Linked DNA regions of Homo sapiens. The protein of the gene in region 2 interacts with the protein of the main gene of each other region in a pairwise test. Each region holds a gene or a part of one and is shown on either strand. Other genes may lie near its edges. The genes, in order: E2F6, TCF19, NOXA1, NGFR, DNAJA3, ZNF474 and TRIB3.

What was found.
Region 1: the proteins of TCF19 (region 2) and E2F6 interact in binary tests that used the Homo sapiens proteins (3 or more experiments, as listed by UniProt).
Region 3: the proteins of TCF19 (region 2) and NOXA1 interact in binary tests that used the Homo sapiens proteins (3 or more experiments, as listed by UniProt).
Region 4: the proteins of TCF19 (region 2) and NGFR interact in a two-hybrid assay, tested with the Homo sapiens proteins (one study listed by BioGRID).
Region 5: the proteins of TCF19 (region 2) and DNAJA3 interact in a two-hybrid assay, tested with the Homo sapiens proteins (2 studies listed by BioGRID and IntAct).
Region 6: the proteins of TCF19 (region 2) and ZNF474 interact in binary tests that used the Homo sapiens proteins (3 or more experiments, as listed by UniProt).
Region 7: the proteins of TCF19 (region 2) and TRIB3 interact in binary tests that used the Homo sapiens proteins (3 or more experiments, as listed by UniProt).

What each region holds. Positions count from the first base shown.
Region 1 is NC_000002.12:11,452,662-11,456,161, forward strand, and holds part of E2F6 (transcription factor E2F6), read right to left. Parts: intron 2,814-3,500; exon of another isoform or gene 2,681-2,813; intron 1,138-2,680; coding exon 921-1,137; intron 1-920. UniProt on the Homo sapiens protein: Inhibitor of E2F-dependent transcription. Binds DNA cooperatively with DP proteins through the E2 recognition site, 5'-TTTC[CG]CGC-3'. Has a preference for the 5'-TTTCCCGC-3' E2F recognition site.
Region 2 is NC_000006.12:31,161,589-31,164,715, reverse strand, and holds the end of TCF19 (transcription factor 19), read right to left. Parts: coding exon 2,711-3,127; intron 2,240-2,710; coding exon 1,999-2,239; 3' UTR 1,900-1,998; coding exon of another isoform or gene 1,890-1,899; 3' UTR 501-1,889; downstream 1-500. Other genes in the region: POU5F1 (POU domain, class 5, transcription factor 1), read left to right, coding at 1-115. UniProt on the Homo sapiens protein: Potential transcription factor that may play a role in the regulation of genes involved in cell cycle G1/S transition. May bind to regulatory elements of genes, including the promoter of the transcription factor FOXO1.
Region 3 is NC_000009.12:137,429,893-137,433,392, reverse strand, and holds part of NOXA1 (NADPH oxidase activator 1), read right to left. Parts: intron 2,772-3,500; coding exon of another isoform or gene 2,643-2,771; exon of another isoform or gene 2,618-2,642; intron 2,610-2,617; coding exon 2,550-2,609; intron 2,319-2,549; coding exon 2,293-2,318; intron 2,158-2,292; coding exon 2,052-2,157; intron 365-2,051; coding exon 319-364; intron 189-318; coding exon 130-188; intron 1-129.
Region 4 is NC_000017.11:49,501,793-49,505,292, reverse strand, and holds part of NGFR (tumor necrosis factor receptor superfamily member 16 precursor), read right to left. Parts: intron 3,231-3,500; coding exon 3,089-3,230; intron 1-3,088. UniProt on the Homo sapiens protein: Low affinity receptor which can bind to NGF, BDNF, NTF3, and NTF4. Forms a heterodimeric receptor with SORCS2 that binds the precursor forms of NGF, BDNF and NTF3 with high affinity, and has much lower affinity for mature NGF and BDNF.
Region 5 is NC_000016.10:4,428,868-4,432,367, forward strand, and holds part of DNAJA3 (dnaJ homolog subfamily A member 3, mitochondrial), read left to right. Parts: intron 1-3,500. UniProt on the Homo sapiens protein: Modulates apoptotic signal transduction or effector structures within the mitochondrial matrix. Affect cytochrome C release from the mitochondria and caspase 3 activation, but not caspase 8 activation.
Region 6 is NC_000005.10:122,150,046-122,153,545, reverse strand, and holds part of ZNF474 (zinc finger protein 474), read right to left. Parts: exon of another isoform or gene 2,943-3,500; intron 1,768-2,942; 5' UTR 1,556-1,767; coding exon 461-1,555; 3' UTR 1-460.
Region 7 is NC_000020.11:390,760-394,259, forward strand, and holds part of TRIB3 (tribbles homolog 3), read left to right. Parts: intron 1-527; coding exon 528-820; intron 821-3,500. UniProt on the Homo sapiens protein: Inactive protein kinase which acts as a regulator of the integrated stress response (ISR), a process for adaptation to various stress. Inhibits the transcriptional activity of DDIT3/CHOP and is involved in DDIT3/CHOP-dependent cell death during ER stress.

The DNA.
Region 1 (3,500 bases), on a different chromosome or scaffold from region 2:
ATATGACCAGGCAACAACTGATTTTCATTTTTTTCTTTCAATCTTAATGGAAAATAAATAGGGAAAGGTCCTTGCCTTTATCTTTTACTTGGTAGTTTTCAAATCTGATTCTAATTAGTGATTCACAATGCATGCCGATATAAACTCCTAAAGTGTTTTTTAGTGTTATTTAGTAAACATGCTCAAATTAGAATTCAACCTGTACTTCTGTACTATTGAAAAAATTACCTCCTTTATGAATCCCTTTCCTCTAATAACTAAGTTAATTATTTAGGGTCATTTTATGGTCTTTGCTGGTAGGTTTTCATTTGCCTGAGAGGTCACTATGTACTTATTTGCTGTAACTATTTCTCCCTGTCCCCAAATACTTGCCTATTCTAGGTACAACAGCATTCTCATGTGTGCACACACAGATACCTTTATCTATGTCAATGTCTTAAGCTTCCCTTTCCATTGGATTTCTCCTCATCATGTCAAGTCTTTAGCAACTGTCTTTTAGACACTGTCTGATTTTTTTTTTTTTTAATATTCAGGGCAGTATTTTAAACACCTCGCTACGTCATAATCTCCTGGGCTACCTGTTGAGAATGTACTTTCCTGCTTTCCCTCAGACCTACCGAATTACAACTCCAGAGGCAGTAAGCCTCTAGGTGTTTACTACACTTCTGTGTGAAAACCACTGTTTTACAACCTTAACAAATTTTCCCAATATCAATAATCAATTGGAACTGAGGAAATACTTTTTAAAAAATTTATGTACTCTCTAGGATGATGCAAGAAAATTTTATAGAATTCTCTTCTAACAAGAAGTCGTACCTTTGTATTATATTGTCAAAACACTGCCACTATCTAGTTTAAGCATGGAATTGTCACTTGATGAGAAGGAACAAAAGCCACGAAAAAGTTTGAAAGCAACTCACATCCATCTAATATGGTTCTTGGATTTCTTTTCAACGAGGTCGATTCCATCTAAGACATTGGTGATGTCATACACTCTCCGCTTTCGGACTCCCAGTTTCGTTGCAACCTTGTTTAAGTCAAGAATACCCCCGGGAGCAGATCTGACAAGATCCATAAATTTTCGAGTTAAATAAACCAGCGATACATCAAAACGAGGTCTCTTCACTTTTAGAGCTTCTGGGAAACAAAATAAACATATTTGTAAAATTTTAAATAACATTTCTCAACTCATTTTTAAAAATCATCTGTTTCCTCTTGATCAGATAGCAGACATCTACAGAAATGCCTACACATTGACCAAATCAAAGCTGGTTTCTATGAAATAAATCTCTTAAATTGGAGAAAAAATTCACTGGCCTATCCTGGCTCTAAACAAAGGCTTTAGATTTAAACAAAGGAGGATTTGAAATATGCAACCAGTGTCCACCGAACATGTGGACTTTCACAAGTCTACTGTATCTTCTCGGACAAAGCAGTGAGATTAATTTGCATCCATACCACTCTCAGGAATAGAATTACACATGATTTTTAAAATTAAATTTCTCATTTGGTCTTCAAGTTAAGGAATTCTTTACAAAGCAAAGGCAGAGAATTGGCGGCTTTTTTTCCCCTTTTAATGACTCTATCCATGTCATAGTGTAAGTTGTCTGATGAATTTTTTTGAAAGAGCCCAAACTAGTCTTCTATTAAGACAATTATGACATACCTCGAGCAACAGTGGTATCTCTCTCTTTTTTTTTTTTTTTTGAGAGAGTCTCGCTCTGTTGCCCAGGCTGGAGCTGGAGTGCAGTGGCGCGATCCTGGCTCACTGCAACCTCCGCCTCCAGGGTTCAAGTAATTCTCCTCCGGAGTAGCTGGGATTACAGGCATGCACCAGCACGCCTGGCTAATTGTTTTGCATTTTTAGTAGAGACGGGGTTTCACCATATTGGCCAGGCTGGTCTTGAATTCATTCCTGACCCTGTGATCCACCTGCCTCAGCCTCCCGAAGTACTGGGATTACAGGCATTAAGAGCCACCGCGGCTGGCCCAGTATCTCTATTTTTAAAAATATTCACTACCCTATATTAATTTAACAGATAGACAAAAAAAAAATCCCTTAATTCCCTCACTCACCTACTATAATGACTGGGGTTTTCATACACACACACACCTCTAACACATTCACACTTGTGTGCCAATCATATATATAGTTTTTAAAAACAAAAATAGGACCATGCAATTTTGCAACACGTTCTTTTAACTCCATATTGTGAACATCCTGACATGTCAACAAATGTATTTCAACATTATTCTTAATGGCTGCATGCTTAACTGTATGCAGTATTTGCTATTTATCCCAATATTAGAAATTAGACCATCTCCAACTTTACGATTTTGCTTCATATTTCAATGAACCTTTTTGTTGCGAAACTACTGTATGTCCCCTTAACTGGACATTTTTAAGGAATGTTGATATGTGCCGCTAAACTGCTCTGCAGGTTGTGGGTTCTATCCATTCTATGCAGTATACACGGGCCTCATCTCACATGCTCGCCAGAACTAAGTATCTTGTCATCTTTTCCAATTTGATACTAAGAAAAAGTTCTTATGGCTTGGTTTGCAGAAAAAATAATTTCTAAAATAACTTTGTCACTCTGGTGTGGAATATATGACTTTCTTTTTCTCTACTTCCACAGCACACCACAGTCAGTATGCCTCAAAGAAATGTCCATCCTACCTTCAGTCAGAAATGTCCTTACTCAGAACCTCCACAATGTCACATTTAGTTTAAAGACCACTGGCGGTTACTTCAGGAACAAAGGTACATATTTCATAATATAAATGTCTTCTCTCTGGAGCCCATTCCTACACTTAAGATTAAATAGGCGTAAATTAGGAATTTAAAAGGATTTTTAATCGGAAGTAGAGGGTCACAATTCTACAACAAACTCAGGAAGATTACAAATGAGAAATTCTAACTTTAAAAAGCATATATTTAATTATACTAATTATTAACAAGGCATGGTCTTATATGCTCAGGATAAGCATATTTCTATGTTATTTTATAAAGAACATGTACAACGGAACACCAAAAATGTGACAGTTGCTGAGGGGATATGAATAGGATTACAGAGGTCTTCACACCAAAGCAACTCCGTAGTCTAATAAGGAACTCTATTATATGTCCTGAGGTAAGTGCTAAGAGAGGTATTCAAAGTCACCCGATGGCAAGAAATCAAACCTTCACTGGAGGGGGAAACTGGGAAGGCCTCTTGATGGGAGTACACTGGGCATAGGGAACAGGAAGGCGAATGGGCGGTGTTTGCCCACTGTGACAGAGGGTGAGGGGCTGAAGTGAGGGAGAGGAAACCACACCTCAGAAGACAAAGCAGACTTAGAGAACCTGGGGTGCTTTGGGGATCACAGGTGGTGTAGCTTGTGCTGTGGAGGAGGGCGGCAGCATGCTGGAAGAAGAGGCTGCGGCATTAAGCAAGAAACAGCCTACAAGGGCCTGGTCTGCTCTGTCTACCCATTCTCTACTGCCTTGTTTCTTTTAA
Region 2 (3,127 bases):
AGGCTATGGGAGCCCTCACTTCACTGCACTGTACTCCTCGGTCCCTTTCCCTGAGGGGGAAGCCTTTCCCCCTGTCTCCGTCACCACTCTGGGCTCTCCCATGCATTCAAACTGAGGTGCCTGCCCTTCTAGGAATGGGGGACAGGGGGAGGGGAGGAGCTAGGGAAAGAAAACCTGGAGTTTGTGCCAGGGTTTTTGGGATTAAGTTCTTCATTCACTAAGGAAGGAATTGGGAACACAAAGGGTGGGGGCAGGGGAGTTTGGGGCAACTGGTTGGAGGGAAGGTGAAGTTCAATGATGCTCTTGATTTTAATCCCACATCATGTATCACTTTTTTCTTAAATAAAGAAGCCTGGGACACAGTAGATAGACACACTTATCTTGGTTTGTCCTTCAGTTACTGAGGTAGGGATGGGAATATCCAATGCTCATACCCAAGTGACCCTGAAACTAAGGTGCCATTTACACTCCTTAAGGTCACACAACATCAGAGGGAGAGCTGGGATTGCAGCCAAGTTTATTTGTACAGGGCCCTGTGATAGGCTAGTTCCCAAAAGCCTGTGATGCAAGAACTTTTGCCCATAGACTCAGTCACCATGTAGCTGTTACCTGTTCAGAGCTGGCTTTTTGCTTTCCCACCCTACTCTGGAATTCTTAAATGGCTTTATACTTAGAAATCATCTTATTTCTGTTGAACCTAGATCACCCCAACCAGAAACTTCTATTAATACTTTGTGCTTTCTTGATACCAGGGTCTATTTGGTTTCCACTTAAGGTTTTTGCATACTCTGCCCATAAGTGACTCATTAGTTACTCAAGTTTTATTCCTGGCTCTGCCACTAGTTCATTAGGGGTCTTTGCCCCAGAGTCATTTCTTCCATTTTAAAAACTTGGGCTCATTAAATCTAGGTAGGAAAGGGCGGGTGTGGCAGGTTTTAATAGAACAGGTCAAGATAAGGCTTTATTTCTATAGAAATGATGCTTTGACAATAGTTTGGCTTGGTGTAAGGCTCACAAAAGAAAATCACATGTACCATGTGTGGGTTAAGCGGTTTGATTCACACTGAACCAGGCCAGCCCAGTTGCCCTCTGCTGTGTCCACCCGTGGAGTGGAGCTGTGTCACAGCCATCACACTGGTAAACTGCTGTAGCTGGTTTACCAGGCTTTCTCTTGCCCTGACAGTACAGGTGAAGCCTGTAAATAAATCTTCTGCTATCTTTGTGAACTTAACCAAATCCCAGTTACCTTATTTAAATGGCAATAGATCTGTTTTCCCTTAAACTAGAAACCTTAATTACCTGTATTCCTACCTCCAGCTCAACCCATATATTTGCACCTTTCCAGTAAGCAGGTTTGTATTTCCATCTCTCCCCTTCCCCTAAGATTCTGAATTAGTTCTCCAGACCTTGCCAAGCACATTCTCCCTGGAAAGCAAGGAATATCACAGACCCACAAGAAGAGTAAATGCCCAGGAGTGAATGAAGCGGCTTGTCCTTGACTTGGAAATAAAAGCAAAGCTGTGAAAAGCCAGGTCGCTACGATTTTGTTGGCAGCAGGACTAGCCACAGAGTAGGGAAGTTTTGGGGCCAGGCCCTAGGTTTTCCCAGAATGCCTTGGGTGATGCCACCAAGAACCTTAAGAACTCCCTCTTACATTTTCCATCGGTTGCAGGCATGGCTTTTGCAACTGATAGGTGCTCTGACTACAGATATTCTGGTGTCCATGGCAACATGGCCTTATGGCTTGTAATAGTGGGAACTTCCAGCTCACTGGCAATTTCCTGGAGGTGGCAATATCTTTGGCAGGAAACCATCTCTTCTGTCTTGGCCACCAGGGTCTGCTCCAGGCCCTGAATGAGTCCACATCAATCCATCCTTCTTCCCTGTAGTCATTCCCTCCTGGGGAGGGAAGGGAAGGGGGGTATTTATCAGACCTATTTGCTCGCTGCTGTGTCTACTCATGGGCAGGTGTGTCCGATGGTGCCTTGGCAGTGGACCTTAGGTCTGAATGCCAGCCCGGCACCCTGGGCATCGGAAGTCGGCCTCCCTGGCAGCCTGGATGCTGCAGCCAACACAGGCCACATGGAACCAGACGTCACAGCCATCACACTGAACCCAGGCCACTGTCTCTTCCTGGGGCAGGCAGCAACAAGGAGCTGCACAGGGCTCCCCGCCCCCAACTGCAGGGGGAGCCATGGGAGCGCTCACTGGGTACTTCCGAGGACGGCCACGTCGATTTCTGAAGGAAGTGACACAGACACAAGGGTCACCGGAAACCTGTAGGAGAAGGCCTAGACCTTGCCACCCTATGGCTGGTCATAGGGTGAGGCCACAGAGGCACAGTGGTCTGAGAACTAAGGTGAGCCTGGACTCTGTCCTTAAAAACACATAGGGTGGGCCTAAAAACCTCTAGTATGAGCCTGAAAGTTCCCCATCCTTAGGCACTAGAAGAATGGGGTTAAAGCCATATGAATGTAAAAAGCAGGACATGCTCACTCCGGTTGTTTTATAAGCACTGCCCCACCCCACCTCTCATGTTCTCCTGCACATATTTTTCTTTTCCTATCAGAGCTAACCCAGGTCTTGCCATTCCATCTATTCCACCTCCCGTGCCCATCCCCCCAGGCAGGGGGACCTCCTCACAGCCTAGGGATACAAGGAATCGAAAAGCAGTAAAACACTGAGAGGGCCAAGTGAGGACTCCACTTACCCAGTGGGAGTCAGTGGGGCTTTGTCTACACGGAGTTTCTTCCTGGGCTCCATAAGGACCGGTGGCGGGTTCTCAGGAGGCTCACTCTCATCATCCAGTTCCGCCAACACTCGGTGAACAGATTTCCTCCGATTGCGTTGTGGTGGAGCAGAAGGCGTGGTCCCCATTTCCCCAGGTGGGGCGGGAACAGGCAGGCTCTTTGGTCCACCCCAACTAGGGGAGAAGGTGAGGGGCTGGGGCCGGAGCTTGCTGAGGCTGCCTATGGAGTTTAGGATCAGTGTGGCCTTGGGGGCAGGGGAGAAGGTGCTGAGAGGCCGCTGTGGAGCCCCCTGGGAGGGCAGCATAGGCCGGAAACCAGCCCCAACCCGGGCTTCTCCCCTAGACCGTGGGATGGTAATGGCAGCAAAGTCCTGAGGC
Region 3 (3,500 bases), on a different chromosome or scaffold from region 2:
CTTCAGCCCGAGGGGTGTGGACAGAGACTGGGCAGGTGAGGGGGGCTTGCAAGCCTTGATTCTGAGGGATGGGGCTTGGCCTCAGCCTCCCTCAGGTGACTGACAGGTGAAGGGTCTAGAGCCTCTTACCCCAGCACCCGCGGGGTCCTCACAGGGGCCGGGGCCAGGCCCCCCCATTGCCGGCAGCCCTGTAGGACAGAGCAAGACTGACACAGCCACTACCACCAAAGTGGGCCCTGTGGGTGGAGGGCAGCCGGCACCCATGCACCAGCAGCTTCCTCCTTCACCCGGGGACCCCGCCGCTGAGGACGCCCATACCTGGGGAGAGAGGAGCCTGTTTGCCAACTTGCTCCACCTGGGGCCTCTGCAAGAGAAGCACAGGCTGGGTGGGCTGGGGCGGTCAGGTGCTGGAGGCCGGTACTGTCCTCGCAGAGCCCACACCAAGGGTGTGGCCTGTGTGCCCGGCCAGCACCCAGCAGGTGGTCTGTGGGTGTTGAATTCAGGGCACTGGCCACAAGTCGGCTGCCTTAGGATGGGGCTGGGTCCCTGCAGACCTAGAGGCTGCCTGTCACCAGGAGGGAGCGCCCCGTCCCCCAAGGCCCACCGAGGTGGCAGCTCCAGGTGGGTGGGCTCCCCAGTGACCCCAGGAAGCTGAGGACCCAGTCCCTGGGCCCCGGCCTCTGTGTGGGCTCGACATTAACCGTGTGCCCTGAGTTGGGCACTGAGCAGGAGACCAGTTCACCAGCTGCAAGTCACAAAGTCACAGCCCAGCGCTGGCTAGACCCTGAGGGTCAGGCATTGCTGTTGTTTTTTGAGAGGGAGTCTCGCTCTGTCGCCCAGGCTGGAGTGCAGTGGCGCCATCTTGGCTCACTATAAGCTCCGCCTCCTGGGTTCACGCCATTCTCCTGGCTCTGCCTCCTGAGTAGCTGGGACTACAGGTGCCCGCCGCCATGCCCAGCTAATTTTTTGTATTTTTTAGTAGAGACAGGGTTTCACCATGTTAGCCGGGATGGTCTCGATCTCCTGATCTTGTGATCCGCCTGCCTAGGCCTCCCAAAGTGCTGGGATTACAGGCGTGAGCCACTTCGCCTGGCTTTTTTTTTTTTTTTTTTTGAGACAGGGTCTTGCTGTCTTGCCCAGGCCGGAGTGGAGTGGCACTGTCATGGCTCACTGCAGCCTCCACCTCCCAGGCTCAAGCAATCCTTCCACCTCAGCCTCCCACGGTGCTGGGATTACAGACCACTGTGCCCGGCCTCGATTGTAACTTATTATTAGATTTATCAGATGGTTGAAGTTGCCTTAGGTTAGGAAGGACGAGAGCTTAAAGGCCCATCGTGGGAACTGGGCAAATAGTTCCAAACCCTGAGGGAATTAGTGAAGCACAGCTTGGAGGGCGCCCTTGCCCCCGGGATGCCACGGTTAAACTGGAAGTGGGCATCCATAAAGAGAGAGTGCCGGGGCTGCTTCCTGATCGCATCCTCAGATGCGCTCAGCGTGAAATGCAGGTGCCTTCTCTGGGCCTCCCGGATCCTGCAGCAGAGCCTCCGCCCACGGCTGCCACCCTGGGAGCAGCTGGGGTTCCTGCCTTCCTCCGCCTCTCCCCAGGTGCCGGGGTGTCCGGGAGGACTCGGGGGATGGAGTCGCTGCTGGGCCCCCATGGGGGGCGGGAGCCTTGGGGCCCCTCCAGAGCTGTCCTGCCTCCCGCCTGTCCCCAGCTGGGTCACTCCTGGTCACTCGCACCCCAGTGGGAGGGGAGGGGCAATGGCCAAACTGAGGTGGTCCTGGGGGCTGAGGGCCTGCAGGGCTACGTGGATGTCTCCACTGGACACCACCTCTCTCCTGTCCTGATGGCCAATGCCCACTCGCCTCGGGCACAGCCAGGCATCCTCCCATCTGGCTGGGCTGGGCCAGGACCACGGGTGAGCCCGGCCCCGTCTACCCCCCAGCGAGCTGCTCCCTCCACCCTCATGTTGGTCCCATTGTGGTCCCCAGTCTGCGGAGGCAGCAGAAGCACCGACCCCCAGCAGGGGAAGAGGCCCAGGCCCACGCACCTGCTCCTGGTAGGCAGTCGACGTGCAGCGGTCAGCACCGACCTCTGTCTCTGCATCGAGGGGGCCCTGGTGGGTGCCAGCTCTTGGGGAGTCCATGATTAGGGACCTAGGGAGAGGAGGGAGGCTCTCAGGCCCTGCCCATCTGACTGCCCTCCTGTGCCCGGCCCGCGTGGCCCCATGTGGAGGGCCTCTGCCCAGCAGGAAAGGCACGCGCTCGCAGGGCCCAGTCAGCCCCTCCTACCTGGCATCATGGTTCGCTCCTGGTCCCTGTGGACACAAAGCAACAACCTCGCTCTGGTTAAGGGTCGGGGGCCGCCCTCCCTCCTCCTGAACCTTGAAGAGTGGTTTCCCCAGGTCTTACACAGGGATGGGATGGCCACCCCACACCTCCCATCAGAGGAACTTCGCAGCCCCAGGAGGGCTCAGAGCTTGTGCAGCATTTTCTTTCCCAGAAAGCTGGGTGAGGCCAGGCAGGGGTCTGAGGGGCCGCAAACCCACCTGTGGCTGCTGAGGGCGGACGCCCCAGCCCTGGTCGTCGGGGATGGCAGAGGCCACCACCTGGCGGGGACAGTGGGGACGCTGGGTCAGGGATCAGCGGCCCAGCAGGGTCTGCTCCCTGCAGCCCGCCCCACCGTGCCCCGCAGCTCTAAGTCCCCGGGGGCTGGGTGACAGCTGCCCATGCCCGGCCCACGTCTGCCAGACCACCATGGAGGGAAATGTCTGATGGAGAAAAACATCTGCTGCAATGTTAACTTATTTTTAGCACAACTTTAAAAACATTTTGGTTTCTTATAAACAGCACTCTACTGTGATATGCGGACTCTAAGTTAATGCATTAACACAGCTCAGAGCCCGGCTTCGCCCACCCCAGGCCTCCCCTGCTGGGCAGCTGCACTGGGCCCAGGAGTCGGCCGTGGCGCAGCGCAGGTGACCGAGGGGGCGTGGCCAGCCAATGGGGCGTGGCCAGTCCGGGGCGTGGCCAGCCAAGGGTGACCCAGTCTTTGCCCACCAGGAGTTCTTCTTCTCCGCCATGTTTCGCCCGCTGCCTTTGGGGGTGAGCAGCTCCCCATTCCTGTGACTTTAGGGGTGTTGCCTGGCTCTGACCCAAGTGTGGGCGTGACGTGGCCCAGACCGTCGGACTGCAGCCCCTGCCCCCGTGAGACCTTGCTATCTGTGGCAGGGACACAGGGACCCCCCCAGGGACCTCGCTATCTGTGGCAGGGACACAGGGAGACCCCCCGGGACCTCGCTATCTGTGGCAGGGACACAGGCACCCCCGCCCCCCGGGACCTCGCTAGCTGTGGCAGAGACACAGGCACCCCCCCCGGGACCTCGCTACCTGTGGCAGGGACACAGGCACCCCCCTGGGACCTCGCTGTCTGTGGCAGGGACACAGGCACCCCCCCGGGGACCTCGCTATCTGTGGCAGGCACACAGGCATCCCCCCAG
Region 4 (3,500 bases), on a different chromosome or scaffold from region 2:
AACCAGGGAAGGACAGATTGTTCAGAATGTGGAAGCAGAAGCAGAAAGGCTAAAGCGCCATTAGGGGGAAACTGAGGCCTGTAGGGGGGTCTCAACATTATTCAAAGGCATCAGAGACAAGATGGAGCAAGGGGTCACTGGCTTCGGGGGTGTGGTGGGGGGATGAGGAGGCAAAGAAGGAAAAGCCAGAGAGAAGTGAAAGGGGCAGAACTGGGGACAAAGGCTGGGCGTGGTGGCTCACTCCTGTAATCCCAGCACTTTGGGAGGCCAAGGCGAGCAGATCACTTGAGGCCAGGAGTTCAAGACCAGCCTGGCCAACATGGCAAAACCCCATCTCTATAAAAAATACAAAAATTAGCTGGGTGTAGTGGTGCACGTCTGTAATCCCAGCTACTCGGGAAGCTGAGGTGGGAGGATTGCTTGAGCATGGGAGGCAGAGGTTACAGTGAGCCAAGACTGCACCAGTGCACTCCAGCCTGGGTGACAGAGTGAGACGCTGTCAAAAAAAAAAAAAAAAAAAAAAGAAAGAAAGAAAGAAAAAGGGTAGAGGAGAGAAGAAAAGACCCAGGAAGAAGGGCCTGGAGGGAGACTTCAGTTTCAAGTGAATTCTGACAGAGGAACCCTGTGTCCCTTTTCCTAGGAGCAGGCAGATCTGGATTCAAAATCCATTTCCATCGCTTATAAGCTGTGTGACTTTGGGTGTTTTACTTAACCTCTCTGAGCTTTTTCTTTCTCTGTAAAAATAAGGAGCAATATCTGCAGTCACAGGGTTGTAGTGAGGAATAAATGAAATTCAGCCATAAAGCTTTGGCACGTAGTTGGGATCCTATAAAGATTGGGCCCCATGGGGGTGGAGAGCGATGAGGACATTGAACTTTGGAGGTAGGAATATGGTCAGACAGCAGAAAGAACGTCCAAACACAAACAGCAAAGGCAGGATGTCTGAGCTATACAAACAAGAGGGTCCTGGCTGGCTGGCGTGTGATGGAGGGTAAGTCTAGTCACACAGGAGGGGAAGAGGAGAAGCCTGCTCATGGCAAAACACAGAAAATTAGCAGAAAACTCCTGGGAGAGGGTTTTAGGTGGTGTGAAAAATGTGGTCTTTTTTGGCAGAGAATGAAGGCAGGGGCTTAATAGGTTTCCTTGTGGAAACGTTTTAAGGGTAGAGGGAAAGTCCGCTGGGGTCTCCGTCCCATAAAGTGGGCTTGTAAAGGCAGCCTGTTAATGCAGCTGGAGGTGGAGGAGGGGGAGACAGGGAAGGAGGGGAAAATGGAGGGGAGGGAGGAAGTGGAAGGGAGGATTCTCAAAGCCACCTCTCTGCCTGCCTCCCTTCCCTTCCAGAGATTCTGGAACTTCCCTCTCCTGGTGTCCTCCGCCCCACCTCCTGCTGAAGGTCCTTTGACTGAAGGGAAAGGGTTCCCATCATTTAGGTCCTGGGAGGAGAGTCCTGGGCTGGAGTCTAGGAAGCAAGAGAGGCAGATTTGGAGGTTCTGGGATAGCTGATGGTTGGCCACCCCCGCCCTGGAATGGAAACCCTGTTAGGCCAGGGCCAGAGCAGGTGGCCATGAAGCAAGACGGCAAAGGCATTGGAGGATGTCCCACCTCCACACATACGCCCAGGCATTTCTTGGCTGGGGAATGGTGTTACAGGATCCACAAGCACAGAGATGGGAAAACAGTGTGTCTGGGGAACACCAAGAGTTGGGGTTGCCTGGAGGACAGATAGACTCAGGGGGGACATCCAGAGGTAACACTAGGTCCGCAGGTGGGTTCAGAGGCCCCAGCTCTATCCCCTTATTCCCAGCCGGATTAAAGAATAATCTGAGTATGGTTCCCTCGAGCCCTCCAGGTGGGCATCGAGTGCCAGGTAGAAGGCAGGGAGTCAGGAAAAGGGCAGGGAGCCCACGGCCCAAAGGCAGCAACTGAGGACTGGGGGCACCGATCAGGGACCGAGACTCCTGACTCAAAAGCATGAGGGAATTCAGACCCTGGACAAGACTGGGGCCAAGGGGCCCAGACCCACCAGCCCAGGAAGATGAGATTCTCTCCCCTCCTGAAAGAAATCCCAGGCAGGGTCGAGCACGGTGGCTCACGCCTCTAATCCCAACACTTTGGGAGGCTAAGGCAGGTGGATCACTTGAGGCCAGAAGTTTGAGACCAGCCTGGTCCACATGGTAAAACCCCATCTCTACTACAAATACAAGAATTAGCCAGGCATGGTGGCATGCATGCACCCGTAGTCCCAGCTACTCAGGAGGCTGAGGCATGAGAATCACTTGAAACCAGGAGGTGGAGGTTGCAGTGAGTTGAGATCATGCCATTGCACTCCCAACCTGGGCAACAGAGCAAAACTCTGTTGAAGGAAGGAAGGAAGGAAGGAAAGGAAAGAAAGGAAAGAAAGGTAAAGAAAGAGAGAGAGAGAAAGGAAGGAAGGAAGGAAGGAAGGAAGGAAGGAAGGAAGGAAGGAAGGAAGGAAGAAATCCCAGGCAGGAATGGGCACAGCTCCCCGTCTCCCCTCCCCTCTGTCACCCCACAGTAAGGACGTCTTCATGGCGCTCTGACCCCCATCCCTGCTGCCTCGGGAAAACTCTGCTTCCTGGTCAAAGCTGGAGAAGAGTTGGCCTGTAGGGAGGAACAGCCACACCCCCAGGATCCCCCAAGGTCAGCCTTCAGGGCAGCCAGGATTTGATCCTCCTCTCCCTTCCCCCAAACACACCGGGGATAAGTGGCAGCCATTGATTTTGCAGTGCAGATGATATTTTTAGCTGGTCTTAGCATCAGCTACTCCTCCCTGCCCAGCCACACTCTTCTACCAAGCCTCTGCCTTCTCCAGAGCTGGGAATGGGCACCCCTTGGAGATCCCCCATGGGGTTCCCCTCCTCCCTCTGCACACTTCCCTTCTCCATTCTCAGCTTCTCGAATCTGGGAGAAGCGCCTCCTACACTGGGTCAGACCCACTTCTGATGACCTTACAGTGGTGGTCTTATAAGGCCTCTACTGGGCATGCTTCTCCCCAGCGCCCCTCCCTTTCACCCCTCTCCTCCCTCCCATTCTTCTCCCCTCCTCCTGCCCGCCACCCTCTACTCACTGTCCAGGCAGGGCTCACACACGGTCTGGTTGGCTCCACAAGGCTGGGCCACACCCTCGCCCAGGTTGCAGGCTTTGCAGCACTCACCGCTGTGTGTGTACAGGCCTGTGGGGCATGCCTCCTTGGCACCTCCAAGGGACACCTGGATGGAGGGAGATCGGAGGGTCAGACTGGCAAGAGAAAGCTGGGGTGGGTTGGGGGGGGTTCTTCCGGGGAATCAAACACCCTCCTCCCACTGCCTTCTATTAGAACCACCTGGGCTGGGATGAGCTCACCAGGGAGGCGTTAGGAACATCAAAGCTGACAGGGGAAAGGCAAGTGAGGGACAGTGTGCCCGTGCAGGCTGCTGGGGGTGTGAGGTCAGAGCTTCAGCTGCTGACCTTCTGCAAAGTTCATCCTGGGGTTACAGCAA
Region 5 (3,500 bases), on a different chromosome or scaffold from region 2:
ATCTCTACAAAAAGATTTTTTTTTTTTTTTTTTTTTTTTGAGACGGAGTCTCACTCTGTCGCCCAGGCTGGAGTGCAGTGGCACGATCTCGGCTCACTGCAAACTCCGCCTCCCGGGTTCAGGCCATTCTCCTGCCTCAGCCTCCCGAGTAGCTGGGACTACAGGCACCTGCAACCGCGCCCAGCTAATTTTTTGTATTTTTAGTAGAGATGGAGTTTCACTGTGTTAGCCAGGACGTCTCGATCTCCTGACCTCGTGATCCACCCGCCTCCGCCTCCCAAAGTGCTGGGATTACAGGTGTGAGCCACCGCGCCCGGCCAAGATTTTTTTTGTTTGTTTGTTTGAGACGGAGTCTTGCTCTGTAGCCAGGCTGGAGTGCAGTGGTGCGATCTCGGCTCACCATGATCTTGACTCACCGTGATCTCGGCTCACCGCATCCTCCGCTTCCTGGGTTCAAGTGATCCTCTTGCCTCAGTCTCCTGAGTAGCTGGGACTACAGGCACGTGCCACCACTCCCAGTTAATTTTTGTATTTTTAGCAGATACTGGATTTCACCATATTGGCCAGGATGGTCTCGATCTCTTTACCCATGATCTGTCCACCTCAGCCTCCTAAAGTGCTGGGATTACAGGTGTGAGTCACCGCGCCCGGCCTACAAAAAGATTTTTAAAAATTAGCTGACTGTGGCCGGACATGGTGGCTCACGCCTGTAATCCCAGCACTTTGGGAGGCCTATGCGGGCGGATCACCTGAAGTCAGGAGTTTGAGACCAGCCTGATCAACATGGAGAAACCCCGTCTCTACAAAAAATACAAAATTAGCCAGGCCTGGTGGCGCATGCCTGTAAACCCGGGTACTCGGGAGGCTGGGGCAGGAGAATTGCTTGAACGTGAAAGTCGGAGGTTGCCGTGAGCCGAGTTAGCGCCATTGCACTCCAGCCTGATCAACAAGAGCGAAACTGTGTCTCAAAAAAAAAAAAATTAGCCAACTATGGTGGCAACTGCCTGTACTCCCAGCTGCTTGGGAGGCTGAGGTGGGAGTTTCACTTGAGCCCAGAAGGTTGAGGCTGCAGTGAGCCATGATGATGCCACTGCACTCCAGCCTGGGCAACAGAGTATGACTCTTTCTCTACCAAAAAATTAATAAAGTCATCAACTGAGAAGCCATGTGGTGGCGAGCCTCTATAGTCCTAGCTACTCAGGAGGTTGAGGTGGGAGGATTGCTGGAGTCCAGGAATTTGAATTTGGCCTAGGCAACATAATGAGACCCCTGTCTCTTAAAAAAAAAAATTTTGAAAAGGTCATTAACTCAGCGTCCAAACACTAGTCTGTGATCTTGTCTCAAATCTAGTAGTAAGATGACATAACAACATTTTAGATGTGACTTTTCTTCCAAGCAGAAAGAAAGCAGTTGTTGGTGGCCAGGTATGGTGGCTCATGCCTGCAATCCCATTACTTTGGGAGGTGGGTTGATCGCCTGAGGTCAGGAGTTTGAGACCAGCCTGGCCAAGATGGCCAAAGCTTGTCTCTACTAAAAATAGAAAAAGTTGGTCAGGCGTGGTGGCGGGTTCCTGTAATCCCAGCTACTCGGGAGGCTGAGACAGGAGAATCGCTTGAACCCAGGAGGCAGAGGTTGCAGTGAGCCGAGATCGCGCCACTGCCCTCCAGCCTGGGCAACAAGAGCCAAACTCCCTGTCAAAAAAAAAAAAAAAGAAAGCAGTTGTTGGACAGTGGGTTGGCCATTCTTAGAACGACTTGGAGGCTTATTTTATTCTGGGTTGTTCTAAAAAGGACAGGACATTTACTGGTCATATGTGATAAAATAAATAGTCTATTAAATGAAATCTAATTATTGTTAATCATTGATGCCCTATGGATAATGTCAAAAGTCATCAGACTGGGGATGGTGGCTCATGCCTGTAACCCCAGCACTTTGGTAGGATGAGGCCGGCGGATCACTTGAGGTCAGGAGTTCGAGACCAGCCTGGCCAACATGGTGAAACTTCTTACCTACTAAAAATACAAAAATTAGCCAGGTGTGGTGGTGTGCGCCTATAGTCCTGGCTACTTGAGAGGCTAAAGCAGAAGAATCGCTCGAACCTGGGAGATGGAGGTTGCAGTGAACCGAGATCACACCACTGCACTCCAGCCTGGGTGACAGAGTGAGACTCTGTCTCAAAAAAAGAAAAAACAAAGCCATCAGTCTTGTAATTAAACGTGATTTGTCTTTATCCACATGCAGTTTTGTGCGTTACTATCTCTGTACTAACTCCTGTCCGTGTTCTCTGCCCGTAATGTTGAAGCCACAGCTGCCACAGGTCACTACCAGCCTCCGCCTTGTGGCATTGGAATGAGTGGTGAGAGAGAGGCTGGACTGGGCCGGGCAACCCCTTACTCCGAAATAAAAAGAGGGTTGAGTACAAGTTCAATAATAAGTCAGGTCTAGTGTTTTCTCAAGTCTGACTGAAGAAACACAAAGTGGTCTCCTGACCCCTACTACTTCCAGTGTGCTTTTTGTATCCCGAGGATATTGGGTGTGCCAAACACACGGATTTATTTCCTATTTCTAATTTTAAGTATCCTGACCATTCCTATCCATTCTCCTGTCTGATCATCCTTTACCTGGCCTCCTACTTGGATGTGCTCAACCAACCTCTGGTTGTGTTTTGTGCTGATTAACTTCGAGTAGTCTCCCAGGCTTCCTAGAGTTGTTTCTCTTTTTTTTTTTTCAGGTGGAGTCTTGCTCTGTCGCCCAGGCTGGAGTGCAATGGCGCGATCTTGGCTCACTGCAACCTCAGCCTCCCAGGTTCAAACAATTCTCATGCCTCAGCCTCCCAAGTAGCTGGGATTACAGGCGTGCACCACCATGACCGGCTAATTTTTGTATTTTTAGTAGAGACAAGATTTCACCATGTTGGCCAGCTTGGTCTCGAACTCCTGACCTCAAGTGATCCACCCGCCTCGGCCTCCCAAAGTGCTGGGATTACAATAGGCGTGAGCCACCTTGCCTGGCCTAGAGTTGTTTCTCATGCAAACCTAATGGGTTCTTTGTTTAACATTTGCAGTGGCTCCCTATTGCTCTTAGGATAAAATCCAGACTCCTTAGCATAGCTCTAAGGCCCTTCCTATTCCTAGGCCCCATTAATCGTTATCATCTCTAACCACCACTACCACCACTGCCATCTAGTTTAGTTATAGGTATAAATCTGTATGGATTCAAAGTCCTCTTTAGCCTATTTCTGTCTCTCTCTCTTTTTTTTCCATGTCATAAGTTTATTTACAAACATCTAGTATGTCATATAAGTTCAAGTCTTTGATCCATTTATTTATTTATTTTTAATAGAGACAGGGTCTCTGTGTTGCCCAGGCTGGTTTCGAACTCCTGGGCTCAAGCGATCCTCACGCCTCAGGTTCCCAAAGTGCTGGGATTACAGGCGAGAGCCACTGTGCCCAGGCTTATTTTTCTTTCTTTTTTTTTTTCTTTTTTTTTTCTGTGATGGA
Region 6 (3,500 bases), on a different chromosome or scaffold from region 2:
TAATTGTTGCTAAAGTCATTGGGGGTTTTTGACACAGATTCTATTTTAGTAAGATAAACTCAGCATAACCCAGCATTGCCAAAAATGAATTCCTAAGGTAGATGACTAAAATAAACCGACAATAAATATTGGCTGTTGGAATGGGAATTATATCTCTGTAATGTAGACACAGCATTAATGACTCATTTTCAAATTACTGTCTCTCCCAGGGATTATTTGTATCAGGGATCAGGGAAGAAAGAAGTCCATCTCTTCTTCTTTTAGACAGCAGAATTGAAGAGGAATATGAACCCATCAGGCAAGGATGTTCTTATATCTATTCAGCCAAGAGAGGTATAGGCCCTGGAGTTCAACAGGGAGTTAACTTGAACAGGCTGCTTTGAGGCTGATACAAGGCATTGATAGAAAAAATACTAGGGGCTGAGGTGGCTGATTCTGGGGATAGTTTTCTCTTGTTCCCCTACAGGCAGAGGGCACCACCAGGTTCACCTAATGCGTCTTGTGTGGCATGAATTACCTTATCAGTTACACTGGGTGCTGCCCTGTTCCTTTGCTGCTTGGAATTAGTGTACTCTTTTAGGCCTCCTTTACTCCCTAAATTCAAATTCTGATATTTTGGCCCATAAGGATGAGTTTTACAACTTCTCTGGTGTACCAGGAGGCGGTCTGAGGTAAAGATTCGGCTACAATGTGGGCAGAACACAAGCTGAGCTTGATTTGGTCCCGCTTGGCTGGACTGTGCATTCGGAAGGGGCTGAGGCTTCTGTGGGAGTGGCTGGTGGAGCTCCACAGGGAGCCGGTCATTTTCCATTTTCCACTTTTCCAGGCATTTGGGCTCATGAATAGGAAGGGACAGGGTGCCAAATTCCTTACCACATATGTAGCAGATAACAGTCCTTGGTCGGGCTGGGGTTCCACTACAAGCTTTCTTGAGGCCAGTAAGATGATCAGAACTGTTTGAGTGTGGTGCTCTGGGACCCTCACCCTTTGGCTTGCAGCTTCTGTGATGAACAAGAAGATGATCTGGCAAGAATGTGCGGCCACAGGATTCACAGGGCAGCAGCTGAGCCTGGGCACTCTGAAATGCAGCCTCGTTAGTTGCCTGAAGACTGTAGGACCCACTGCTGCTGAGAGACTGTGGTTTGGAGGGTTCTGGCCTCCTCAAATGCTTGGGCAACTTGCTGTTTTCAATATGCCACTTCTGCAAGCACTGGGGTTCATGAATGGCAATTGACTGGGACCCAAATTCTCGGCCACAGATATAGCATACCCGGAATCCAGGCCTGCGGGCCGGGATCACAGGGGGGCTAAGCTGGCTTTCCGATATAATTCTTCTACTTGACAGTTTTGATAGTATCACAGTCCCAGGTCTCTTTTTCTGAGTGTCTGTCTTTATATTTTCACCAGGATTAACACTCTCTGTTTCTGGGGAAAGGCTAGAATAGGAGTCACTAGAGAGAAGCCCAGCTTGGTTGATAAGGAAAGTGGGTTCTTTAGAATGGTGAAAAGTTTGTTGTAACTTATTGGAAATTCTTTTCTTCTTTCCTCTTTCCATTAACAAAGATGTCTTTCTGTAGTGCTTGCTCTGATTTCAGGCCAGACTCACTTTGGGCTTCTGCTTAGAGTGAAGGTTAGTGAGGTTAGTTGTCCTGGGGTTCACACCGTTGCCAGTACCTTAGCCTCACAGACCGTGACTCAGAGCTTCATTGCAGGACGGCAGTCTGGAATGTTGGAAAGTCCTCATTAAAGCTGAGATGTCTCCAAGATCTGTGGAGGCGGGTGGGAGACATAAGAAGTTATTATGTAAACACACACACACACACACACACACACACACACATTTAGGTTGTTTTGTGTGTGTGTGTGTGCTTTTTTTTTGCTTGTTTTAAATATTGACCTTGTATACTTTTTGACTAGCACAGTAACCAGCATATGGGATTTGGTCAATAAACTGACATAAACCTGAGGAAATCTTCCATCATCAATTGCACTATCACTGTATTGAAAATCGTGTTCTGCCCAAAAAGTTAACTTGACAATTACAGCACATCATAGATACAGAAGACGCAAAGCAATAGAGGCTGAGACCAGGGTGGTGAGACCATAGAAGAGAAAACTGCAAACTGTGAATATTAGATTAATGAAATCAGCAGGTCATACGAAAAGACCCCCTGGGCCCCACAGAAACTTCCACTACGTCAGAGATCCTTAACTTGTTAGTGACATGGATTCCTTTGACAATTCTGTGAAGCCTATGCACTTCTCAGAATAGTATTTTTATAAGTAAAAATAAAAATTGTTGCTATCACAGGTGAAATCAGTTTTACTGAAATAATTTGTCAACTGTTTCTAGTTGTGATATACATTTTAATTGAGGTAAAGTTGTGTCACAGACTTCTTGAGTGTCCATGGACCTGAAATTAAGAACTCTTGCAGAAGAAGTAATTCAAGAATGAATCTTATGAGGATTATCAGGATAGCCCTCAGAGGGACATAAACTTCTTGTGACACATCATGTATTCACTTTTGTTTATTATGGGAATAGGGTATTAATAAAGTGGAGCTATAATTCTCCAGCAAAGAGTACAGCCTAGGCCGGCACCCATCCTGGTGGGATATCTGCAGATCTTTCATGGAAAGATGATACACAGATGCTGCTTGAGGCTCTTTTTTTATTAAAAAGGTATCATACCTACTTTCTTGTTTTATATATGTATGACTTCCAAATATTTTTAAATATAAAACAAAGGCCCTGGATTCCCCAAGGATCCCCACCAGAAGAAGTGGCAGCTTAGATATCCATTTATGGGAAGAATCTTAAATTTGTATATTGGGAAAAGTTATGAGTAAATTTTACCGTGGGTTTATAATCTGGCTCCCCAAAAAGATTATTTCAGAAGCCTCAGGACCTTTTTCATTTCCTTTATCGTTTCATTTATCAGGGTGATAAACTCTAAAGCATCCATTCTTAACCACAGAAGAGCAGCCCCTGGTATGAAGCTGGATCCTCTACATCACGGCAAACACTTCAGTTTGGACAGTGCAAGGCCAGCAGTCCTGGTAATATGGAAACCCTGGGCACTGGATTTGATAAAGAACAAGAAGAGCTGTGATATCTGTGCCCAGCTCCTGTACTTTGGTGCCAACAAAGGTCTGAATCCTTGCCTTTAAGAGTATCAAATCAGGTCTGGCACAGAGAAAGAAGTTATTCTTCATTTTGACAGATTCTAAGACAGTAATGTTAACAGATGTGGGAAAAGTATGTGTTGGCCCCAGAGTGGCCAGCATAGAAAATAAAACAGAGAAATTTATCACTCGATCAGTACCATCTAAAAGAGAAAGTAGATCTATGGAACATAGGAATAGGGTAAAATTATTTCATTAGGTTTTAAATCCAGCCCGTGGGTTATTTCCACAAACCATTCTGCTTTATTGGCTCTGTTCACCGAGGAATTTTAGTTTATCATTTTCCTTGATACTAGGAAATTGCAGACACTAAT
Region 7 (3,500 bases), on a different chromosome or scaffold from region 2:
GGAAGGCTGAGGCGGGAGGATCACCTGAGGTCAGGAGTTCGAGACCAGCTTAGCCAACATGATGAAACCCCATCTCTACTAAAAATACAAAAATTAGCTAGGTGCGGTGGCACATGCCTGTAATCCCAGCTACACTGGGGGCTGAAGCGGGAGAATCACTTGAATCCAGGAGGCGGAGTTTGCAGTGAGCTGAGATTGCGCCAGTGTGCTCCAGCCTGGGTGACAGAGCGAGACTCCGTCTCAAAAAAAAAAAAAAAAAAAAAAAGCACAGACAGTGGAGTGCATACGTGCAAATCTCAGCCGTGCTGTTTGCTGGCTGTGTGGCCTCTCAGCTTCGTTAACCGTAAAATGGAGCAAGTCATCCTACCTTATAGGACCATGGTCAGGGCTGAGTGACTCGGTCAGTGAAGCGCTTGGTGCGATGCCTAGCACATGGTAGTGTCTAATAGGTCAGCTGTGACTGTTTGCAATGCCAGCCTCAGCTCCCGGGAGTCCCCAGCTGTGCTAACACCATGCTCTGCCCACAGGTGTACCCCGTCCAGGAAGCCCTGGCCGTGCTGGAGCCCTATGCGCGGCTGCCCCCGCACAAGCATGTGGCTCGGCCCACTGAGGTCCTGGCTGGTACCCAGCTCCTCTACGCCTTTTTCACTCGGACCCATGGGGACATGCACAGCCTGGTGCGAAGCCGCCACCGTATCCCTGAGCCTGAGGCTGCCGTGCTCTTCCGCCAGATGGCCACCGCCCTGGCGCACTGTCACCAGCACGGTCTGGTCCTGCGTGATCTCAAGCTGTGTCGCTTTGTCTTCGCTGACCGTGAGAGGTGAGTGTGGTCTCAGAGACCCCAGCCACAGACACACCCAGGGGGTGGGCCATGATGGAGAGAAACCGAGGCCCAGGAAGGCAAGGTAACTTAGGCAAGAAGTGGGAGAAACTGAAGTAACCAGCAGCCCCTGTTTAGTTCCCTGAGAAGAGTTGACTCAGGCCAGGTGCAGTGGCTCACGCCTTTAATCCCAGCACTTTGGGAGGCCGAGGTGGGTGAATCACTTGAAGTCAGGAGTTCGAGACCAGCCTGGCCAACATGGTGAAACTCCGTCTCTACTAAAAATACAAAAATTAGCCTAGTGTGGTGGCGCACACCTGTAATCCCAGCTACTCTGAAGGCTGAGGCAGGAGAACTGCTTGAACCTGGGAGGCGGAAGTTGCAGTGAGCCAAGATCACGCCACTGCACTCCAGCCTCGGCAACAGAGTGAGATTCCATCTCAAAAAAAAAAAAAAGAGTTGACTCAGTCCTCTTGGGAGCCCCTTGGGATTCTGGGATGGAGCACTGAGATGTGAAAGTCATAGTAGCCGACAGTGACGAAAGCATCGCCACATTATCTAACGTGGTCTTCCATCCTTACAAACACGAGGCAGGTACTGTTATTATCCCCATATGATCAAGGAAACTGAGGCCCAGAGAGCTCAAGTAACTTGCCCAAGATCCCATAGCAGAATAAATGGTAGAGCTGGGATTTGAACCTAGATCTGACTCCAGAGCCTGGGTCTTAATTCAATCTGAGCTTGAGAGGCAGGGGCCTGGCTGGGCTTACCAACTGACTTTGGGTGACCTAGTGTCTCTGAGCCTCAGTTTCTCCGTTGGTAAGGAAAAGGGCTGGATTGTTAGGGTGTTTTCAGGATTCCAAGACCACAGCCAAAATAGGGTCTGAGGTTCCCCACACGGGAACGTTTTCTGTGAAACTGAGAATTAGCACTTTTTGGTTAAAAGAATCTTCCTTCTCTAGGTTGGGATGCTAAGAATTTTTTTTTTTTTAATTGAGACAGAGTCTCACTCTGTCACCCAGGCTGGAATGCAATGGCGCGATCTTGGCTCACTGCAACCTCTGCTGCCTGGGTTCAAGTGATACGCCTGCCTCAGCCTCCCGAATAGCTGGGACTACAGGCATGCGCCACCATGCCTGGCTCATTTTTTCTATGTTTAGTAGAAACGGGGTTTTGCCATGTTGGCCAGGCTGGTCTTGAACTCTTGACCTTAGGTGATCCGCCTGCCTCGGCCTCCCAAAGTGCTGGGATTACAGGTGTGAGGTACTGCACCCAGCCTAGACGCTAAGAAAAATTTTTAAAAGATAATTCTGGGGAGAAGGGCAGAGAGACTCGCCTCCTGTTCCCTCTCCAGATTCCTGGGGGCAGTCAAGATGTGTCAGGGAGTGCACTAAGCTGCCAGTTACACAGGAGTTTTCTGTGGAGAAAGGAGTGTGACCCCATGGCATTTTAAAAAACTTTTTATCTTGAAATAATTTTAGACTTTTAGAAAACCTACAAAAATAGTTCAAAGAGTTTCTGCATATCCTTTAACCAGTGCTCTCCAATGTTAACACCTGACGTAGCTATGGTACAATTACCCAAACTATTAACTAAGCCACAGATTGATTCCCACTTCCCGAGTTTCCCACTAACACCCCTTGCTGTGCAGGATCCAGTGAGGATCCCAATTTAGTCATCAGTGGTTTCCTTGGTCTCTTCCAATCTGAGACAGTTCCTCAGTCTTTCCCTGTCTTTGAAGACCCATGACCTTGACACTTTTTTTTTTTTGAGACAGGGTCTCACTCTGTCACCCAGGCTGGAGTGCAGTGGTGTGATCACAGCTCACTGCAGCCTCAACCTCCCGGGCTCAAGTGATCCTCCCACCTCAGCCTCCTGAGTAGTTGGTTCTACAGGTGTGTGCCACCCCACCTGGCTAATTGAGATGGGGTCTTGCTATGTTGCCCAGGCTGGTCTCAGACTCCTGAGCTCAAGCAATCTGCCTGCCTCAGCCTCCCAAAATCCTGGGATTATAGGCGTGAGCCACTGCTCCTGGCCATAACCTTGAGACTTTTGAAGAGTACTGATCAGTTACTTTGTATGTCCCTCAATTTGGATTTGATTGATGTTTTCTCACAGTTAGATTGCAGTTATGTATTTTTGGCAAGAACAACACAGAATCGATAGGCCCCTCTCCACATCATATCAAGAGATACTTGAGCTGATAGTCATTCCTATGTCGTGACCTTGATCACTTGGTTAGGGCAGGACCTACCAGGTTTCTCTACTGTAAGGTCCTAATTTACCCTTTGTAATTGACAAATACCTTGGGGGAGGTAAGCTAGGCATATAAATATCCTGTTTTTCCTCAACTTTCACCCACTAATTTTAGCAGCCATCCATCTTGCCTATAGCAGTTATTATTGTGGTGCTTGCCTAAGTCTAATTTTCTTTTTCTTTTTTTTCTTTCTTTCTTTTTTTTTTTTTTTTGAGACAGAGTCTCGCTCTGTTGCCCAGGTTGGAGTGCAGTGGCACGATCTCGGCTCACTGCAACCTCCACCTCCCGGGTTCAAGTGATTCTCGTGCCTCAGCCTCTTGAGCAGCTGGGATTACAGGCACACACCACCACACTTGGCTAATTTTTGTATTTTTAGTAGAGATGGGGTTTTGCCATGTTGGCCAGGCTGGTCTCGAAATCCGC